Linked DNA regions of Homo sapiens. The protein of the gene in region 2 interacts with the protein of the main gene of each other region in a pairwise test. Each region holds a gene or a part of one and is shown on either strand. Other genes may lie near its edges.

Evidence for each region.
Region 1: the proteins of ETV5 (region 2) and CYP3A5 interact in a two-hybrid assay, tested with the Homo sapiens proteins (one large-scale study listed by BioGRID and IntAct).

Annotation. Positions count from the first base shown.
Region 1 is NC_000007.14:99,677,122-99,681,635, forward strand, and holds the start of CYP3A5 (cytochrome P450 3A5), read right to left. Parts: upstream 2,876-4,514; 5' UTR 2,776-2,875; coding exon 2,705-2,775; intron 1-2,704. UniProt on the Homo sapiens protein: A cytochrome P450 monooxygenase involved in the metabolism of steroid hormones and vitamins.
Region 2 is NC_000003.12:186,081,577-186,085,396, reverse strand, and holds part of ETV5 (ETS translocation variant 5), read left to right. Parts: intron 1-3,820. UniProt on the Homo sapiens protein: Binds to DNA sequences containing the consensus nucleotide core sequence 5'-GGAA.-3'.

The DNA.
Region 1 (4,514 bases), on a different chromosome or scaffold from region 2:
TCACTATGGCAGGCCTGCCTGGAACTCATCTTTCATGAGTCATGTGCAAACTCCTCCAACTGATGGTTCTGGATCCTTGCAGACCTTCCCCCTCCGGTGTGACTGAGGGATGGAAAACTGGAGGAAGAAGAGAGGCTGAAGGAAGAGGTTGCCAGACACTGATTCAGCTGTGAAGCTGCTAGCCCCACACAGTTGGCTCCAGAGAGGCAAACTACAAAAATGTGGCTGAAAAAGATGATGTGCATAAAAGAATCCACATGCCTCATATGTACTTTCAGCTAAAAGACACAGAGGGACCTTCCAAAGTCCAGGTACTTTCCTGTTGATAGCAAATGGTGCAGTATGGCATATAAGATAAGTAATGATAAAACGTCCCGGAGAGTTGTATTAAGACCTTGTTTACTCCTCTTTAGAGGTTAGCCTTCAAGGCAGTATAGGTTCCAAACATTTTGTAAACATCCAGTGACTTATAAAATGTGATAAAATAAAACTGAGAAATTACATGAAGGGCAGGGTTTGGAGGACTCAGCAGGGGCAGCATGAGCAGGCCCAGTCATACATTTGGTTCCCTGCCCCAGAACAGTTAGTGGAAGTGCGTGCACCACCTGCCAAAGCCAGGGTGGCCTTGGGTATTCCCACTTCAGTTCCCTCCTTTGTTGTCACAGCCATGTCAAATCAATGACACTAATCTCTGCTCCTGAACTTTAAACACATTACCTGACCTCTCAGGTGAGGACAAGCTATTGAGTTAATGTGTCAGCAGCATTGGCCCCCAAGGAAAGATCTTGGTGAGTGTCTAGATTCACATGGTACCATGTCAAGGCAGATGCTGTGCTGGGCGAACTCTTTAGTTTCTTTCCAGCTCCCCTCTGGTAGAGTAATGCAGCCTTTGGGTCCAGTGAAGAGACTAACAGAAAAGCCAGTCATCTATTGCATGTAATTGTGTTGGCCTAAGGAGGGCCTGGTCTACACTGCATTTTCTGACTCCTGGGCTGCACCAGCATTGTCTAAGGCTAAGGCATTGTCTGCCTGGCTGCCCGAGTCTGTAGTGACCGGCCCACAACATGGCAGACCACACACAGAGTGACACAGATGGTGCCCCTGTGTCCAGGCTTGAAGCAGATGAGATGCCAACCTGTTTGCCCTTTGAGTGACCTCCACGGTGGGGCCAGGACCCATGAATATCTCTTTGGAGTTCTACCCTGAGAGCTGAGGAATATTTTCTCACTTCATATGGATCCTACCTGGAAGCCTTTGCTATCGTCACTGGCTCACAGTCTTGCTTACTCCCCTGTCCTGAGAGTTTAAGACAATCTGCTAAGCAGGTATATTCGAAAAGGAGTTATTAAAATAAATGGCCGGACAGGTATATTTGAAAAGACGTGCAGTCTTGTCTTAGAGGTATACATTTGTGCATTAGACTCATATTCCTGACATTCAGGAAAGGTGACATTATTTTACACACACTTATTGTCACAAATACTGAACTAACAGCCCTGTTTTACCATCCAGAAGGAACATGCTGGAAATAGTCTATCTCCAAAAAATTCTGGTTTAAAAATGAATGAATTTAAACCATATCAATTCATTTAAAAATGTTAGACAATGGAAACCATGTTGCCACAACTCACTGAATTCCTAAGCTTTCTGTGAAAGAATTAAAATGAGGTTTATAGTGTCTATTTTCATGTCATTGTGGTTCCCTGCTCTTAATAAAAGTCAAATTGAGGTAGAAGTTAATGGGACAGGTGGAGCCTCCACTACCCACAGTGGAAAGTAACTCTTCTCTCCACCTGCTCTAGGATGCCAGGAATCCCACCAGTGAGAGGGTTTGCCCTCCTGTACTGTAACATAAAGGGGAAAAATATGTAAAATCCAAATTGGCTTTCATGGCTCCTGCCTTTTCAGGCTGCTAGTAGATTCCCATTAGGTGAGAAACAAAGCTCTATATTAATCCTAGCCTCCCAGAGACGGGAGGAAAAAGATTAAAGCAAAGAATAAATCCTCGAAACTTCCTCCAGGTCTCCTTTGCTCTAGAGGTTAATCATTGCAAGATAAACCATCCTGTGTATGACAGGGTGGAGGAGTGACTCATAGGAGGGAGGGGATTTTCAGGGGCATGGCACAGGAAAGAGGGAAGAGCCAGGGGACAGCTTCCCATGAAGTCTTGGTGTCCCCTGGTGCGTTATGTAAATGATATCCTGGGTTGGAAGGCGGGGGAGCAGGAACCAGGTCTACAGGGGCAATACAGCTACACATCCCTTCCAGCAGACACAGAACCCAGAAAGCGAATTAATGAGACAAAAATGCAAGCCACTCCTTCCTGTACCCAGAATCCCCAGAGCCTGGGAAGGGGATGAGGATCACACTGTCCATCATGATCAGCAGTTTGTAATCTGCCGCTGCCATGTTTTCATTGATTAGTCTTCGTCAGATCTAAGCTAATCAAATCATTCCCACTACCAAATGCTGTCCCTAAACCCTCCTAGTCACCAAAATTAGAAGGTGGATGGGAGAAATGCTTATTTATTCATTCATAGATCTGCATAAGATAATAATAACTTCTATGCGTTTGTAGCGTCCAACACTTCAGCTACTTCTCCTTGAACATCTCTTTTGATCTTCAAAACAGATAAGGGAAAAGGGGCCCGATTAGCACCCCAAGTCCAAGGAAACAAAGAGAGGAGTTTGGACAGTTACTCACAGATAGAGGAGCACCAGGCTGACAGCCAGGAGAAGCCAGGTTTCCACCGCCAAATTTGGGATGAGGTCCATCGCCACTTTCCTTCTTCAACTGTGTTCTGTGAGTCTTCCTTTTAGCTGAGTGCTGCTGTTTGCTGGGCTGTTTGCCTGGAGCTTCCCTGCCCTGCACAGCAGTCTTCAGCCAAGCTGCTGAAAGATTTATGTGCTGGAGAAGGAGGCAGGGCTATAGCTGCAGCCAATAGCAAAGAATCGCACACACCCCTTTGCTGACCTCTTTTGAGTTCATGTTCTATGAGGAATCATGAAAAGCTTAATCAGTGTTATCGGGGAGTCCAAGGGTTCTGGGTTCTTATCAGAAACTCAAGTGGAGCCATTGGCATGAAATCTATTAACCCTCCTCTCACCTGCCCCTCCATGGCTGCCTTCATTCTAGAATAATTGAAATCCATCCTCACAAGCCACACCTACACATCTTTACCCACGAAATTCCCTCTGCCTGGAGTGTACCTGTGCCCTCTAGATGACTCCTACGTATCCTTCCAAGCCCAGCCAGACAGACCCCTTCTGCTAAAATTTTTCCTTACCAACCTCCTCACACAAATGTAACCATTTCCTCCTCTGGGTGCCTCCTATCCCCCTCACACAGTCCTATTGTCCTCTTTTCTCTCTACCACCATTGTAAGTTTCTATGCCTGTTTCCCTTAGCAGAGGTGAGCTCCTCAAGGGCACAGTCTGGTATTATTTACTTTCATGACCCTGGTTCCTAGCAGGGTACTGTACACATGGTGGGTAACCAGGAATGTTGGTGGAGTTGTCTTGGGTGAGATTGCTGGGCGTCTCATCCCCTCTGACTCTGTGGTGATAGCAATAGACTAATGGTTGCTTGGGACTCAAATGCAGCCACACTGTGTCCCAACTAATAAAGTTGGTCTTGTTCTGCAAAGGAAAATAATAGAAATCATGTTCTGCCACTTAATTCCTCATAAGGTAACATAACATGAAGAGACTTACCTGTTGAGAGTTGTACTGAATCTGTCAAGGAAGATACTGTGTATCAGAAGAACACCCAACCAGTTTGTGCCTCTCATCTATTCATTCCTGTATTAAAGCATTCATGATGTATTTTAAAAGCTGTGCTCCCAGTACTTGGGTACAACACTGACTAAGGCCCAGACATTAGCTCAGTTGTTTTGATTTGTAGATCCCACAAGTATGTGAGAACTTGCAATATCTGTGTTTCTGTGCCTGGCTTATTTCACTTAACATGATGACCTCCAGTTCCATCCATATTATTACAGATAACAGGATCTCATGCTTTTTTCATGGCTGAATTGTGCTCCATTGTGTATAATTGGAGTACTTTCTTTATCCATTCATCTGTTGATGGACACTTAGGTTGCTTCCAAATCTTGGCATTTGTGAATAGTGGCTATTGTGAATATTGGAGTGATGTTATCTCTTCAATATATGATTTCCTTTCTTCCAGGTATATACCCAGCATGGGGATTTCTGGATATTGTGGTAGCTCTATTTAATGTTAATTTTAATGTTTTGAGGAACCTCCAAATTGTTCTCTATAGTGGTTGCACTAATTTACACCAACAGTGTACAAGGGTTCCCTTTTCTCCACATTCTCGCTGGCATTTGTTGTTGCCTGTCTTTTGGATAAAAACCATTTTAGCTGGGGTAAGATGATATCTCATTGTGGTTTTGATTTGCATTTCTCTAATGACCAGTGATGTTGAGCACCTTATCATATGCCTATGTGGCATTTGTATGTCTTCTTTTGAAAAATGTCTATTCAAATTTTG
Region 2 (3,820 bases):
ATTTAGGGGTATGACGTGTGGCTCGCACTGGGGAGTGTAGGGTAAACATGAGGATACAGCCCTGAGAGCTGGAAAAAAGTATCCTTCTGTTGTCTTCTCCCGTATTGTCTTCCTTCTCTCTTTCCCTTTATCTTTTATTCTCTCTTTGATTGGTCTTTTTTCTCTCAGATTCCTTCTGGGAGCCAATATAATGAAAAGACTAAGAACTGCATAGGTAGGAATCCTGGCCACTGACCAGCTGTGAGACGTGGCAAGTGACTTTGAGCCTTTACGTGGCAAGTGACTTTGAGCCTTGTTTTCGTGTTCGTAAAATGAAGACAATGGAAGCATTAATAGCTTTCTCATTGAATTGGGAAGATTGAGTGAAATGATGTATGTAAGAGCAACTGGGCATAAAGGAAATGGTAAGGGGTCTGGCTGGCTGCCTCTTTCTTGGTCTGCCTTCTTTGTTCTTTTCCAGAGGTATTAGTTCTTCTCATCCATTTTTCCTTTGTTCTAGAGCATATTCTGTTAAACAGGTGTAAGTGGTATTTTTGTTTAGTTGAAAAAAAGGTTTATGCCTTCTATTTTTAATGTACAAAGTGAGCGAGTAGAGTATCTCCCATTTCTGTCAGTGTGGTAGAAGATGACTAAAATGACAGTGCGGAGGCCCTTGCCTCTTCTCCCCTCGAATAGCAGCACCCCTAAGCCCTTTAGTTCCATTGGGCCTCAGGATCCTTATCTATAAATGTGAGGGCTTGAATTCAGCATACTGAGGCCCTAATCTATCTCTGATTGCATCGTTGAGAAGATGCTAAAAGTCAGATGCCTCACTAAGTTATGCGGGCCAGCCATGTCTGTTTTGCTTAGCATCATAGGCCCCCGACATCCAGAATACCTGGCCCATCGAAGATACTCTGTGAATGAATGAATGAATGAATGAATGAATGAATGAAGACAGAAAGAAAGATCTTCATGACAAAGAAGGTAGTCCACATTCAGCAGGAATTATTTTCAGGGCACCACTGACTTTGTGGGCCCCTCTTCTACAATTCTGAGTTTAAACTCAAAGTTTCTAATTGCAGAAGATGTTTATTAGCTCAAATGTCAACTTTTTTTTTTTTTTTTTTTTTTTAGCATTTCTTTTCAAACTTCCTCAAGAGTTCATGATCCCTTTTCAATTCCAATTTGTTGCCATCCTTTATAGTCCTGGGTCTCTGTCATCATTTAGCAAGTCAGCTGTGCAAAGGTAAATACTATTTTTGAAAGCACAGGGTATAATTACACAACATCATAGCACCATCTGCAAGGTGCTGTGCCCTTTTCTTTATTTCTCAAGGCTGCATCACATACCTCATTTTACAAATGAAGAAACAGACTGAAAGCAAGGAGCATTCCTTGGCTTCTGAGTTCCTGCTTTAAATACACCACTATCTCTGACTAACACATGCCAGAATTAGGCTCCTTCACACATCCTCTAGTCCCACAGACCTTTGAGGAGCTGAGCCTTGTTCCTCACCACTCACAGGGCCCCTCATGGCTTTCCTGTCAGTGTAGATCTGTGAAACTTTCCATTCTTGTTCCTGCCATGTTTTGTCCTGCGGGGAAAGTATATGTAACTAACATTGTACCCAGCCTTGTAGGGTAGATGTGGTCCCTGCCTTCACGGTTAAGAACAAATTGGAAATATAATCCATTTGTTCACAAAAATACTTTTTGAACTCCCCCTTTGTATAAAGAATATACTATTCCACATATAAGACGTTTTGGGGTAGAAGGTACTATATAATTTAGAGCCAAAATGATGTGGTACACACTAAGTACTGTCTGGATTTGAAGAAATCAAGACATCAGAATTCGCTGGCAGCTTAGATCCTTTTAGATACGTGCAGTTCCTGAAACAAATACAAAGTGTTTCTGGGCAACTTTGGCATACCCTCTGGTGTTAGACTTGTCAGCAAAATTGGTAACTGTTATAATAATATTGTGACAATGTCAAGACACTTCTAAAACCTGAAATCAGACCATTCAATAATACCCTAATTGTTTTCTTTCCAAACTTAGGTAAAGTGGTGATTGCAAATGATTATCTTTAGATAAAGCAAGAAAAGTAGACGTTTCAAGGACATGTAGCTTTTGTTTAAATTGGGTCATCATTACCTTTCCTCATTATTTTGCCAAAACTTTTATAGCAGAAGACTGGTGAGAGGAAGGGCAGTGACCACGGGGCAGTGCTGAGAACTGCCAGACTATCTACTGTGTTGGAGGAAGGGATTTCTGTGTCAAATTCTCATTTACTAGCAACATTCAAACAAGCTTCGCTATTTTCTGTGTCTGAATATCTGAAACAGTTGATAACAATTGAGTGTTGGCTGCCATGATGTCACCATCAAAAAATCACGAGAGAAACTCTAATGACTTCTAAATATAATCTGCTAGTTCTCAACTTATTTTATGTATTCAGGAAAAGCAGTTGGCATTATATAAGAAAAGAATTATGAAAACCTGTCCTTTCCAGTCAGTCACTGGCAAGACTTTGCAGCAACATTGCTTTATAACCTTGTCATCTGTGATAGAGTCATCTGTCTCGTATTCAATCCTGAATTCAGAATTTGGGATTATAGAGGCACCTGAGAGGCCAGTTGGCTGGAAGATAGTTCAGCCTTATCAGATATTAATAGAAAAGAGATGATTGTTTAGGCCGAGTGCGGTGGCTCACGCCTGTAATCCCAGCACTTTGGGAGGCCAAGGTGGGTGGATCACAAAGTCATTAGTTCGAGACCAGCCTGGCCAACATGGTGAAACCCTGTCTTTACTAAAAATACAAAAATTAGCTGGGCATGGTGGCGGGCACCTGTAATCCCAGCTACTCGGCAGGCTGAGGCAGGAGAATCGTTTGAACCCAGGAGGCAGAGGTTGCAGTGATCACGCCATTGCACGCCAGCCTGGGCGACAGAGTAAGACTCCGTCTCAAAAAAAAAAAAAAAAAGAGAAAAGTGATGATTTGTTTAGCTAGTTCTACCTCGTATAATTACTAAGAAGTAACTCCTAAAGATGTTTTAGGAGTAAACATTGAGTCAAAATGAAAATGTTACTGGGTCACCAGACCACTGACTGTAGTTAGCTATTTAATGAGACCTTTGATACAGTGGCCAGTGGCCAGCATAGAAGCTTAACTTGCTCTCCTTCCCCACCTTCCAAGGTAGCTAGACAAGGAGTAACCATTCTAACTCAACTAGAAGGCAGCCCTTATAGCGCAAAATGCATCTTTCCACTTTGGATAAAATGCTGTCTCTGCAACAATTTAGCTCCTAGAGAAGACAGAAAAGGCAAACTCGGTTTTTTGTTCTTTGGGTTTATTTTGGCCACTACATGTAAATCACCTTGATTTGAAAAATTCTTGTTACTCTGCCCTCTCAGAATCCTATGTGGTATATGTAGTTGGCTTCCAAGCCAAAAGCAGTAGCTCCATGTATTTATTCCATGAATTCAGCAAAATTCACTGCACCATCTATGAAAGGACTGGTTACGCAAACCTACCCTTGCTGGTCGGTCACTGAGACAGGCCTGGAGCAGATGTTGTAAGCACAAAGGTAGCCAGGCTTTCTGCTTTCTGTATTCATTAGCCTTTCCTAGGTGGTGGATTGGTCTGTTGTTTTATTCCTTTGCTTTTAAAATTTTTGGAATGCCTCTAAAGTTGAGTATTTCTTGCTGAGAGCTGATATTTAAAGTTACTTGAGAAAGGACTTTTTAAAAATTCTATATTTAATTTGTAAATATGCATCTGAATAAGAAATATATTTGCCACAGCAATTTTAAGCCTTTGATAAGCTTAAATGTG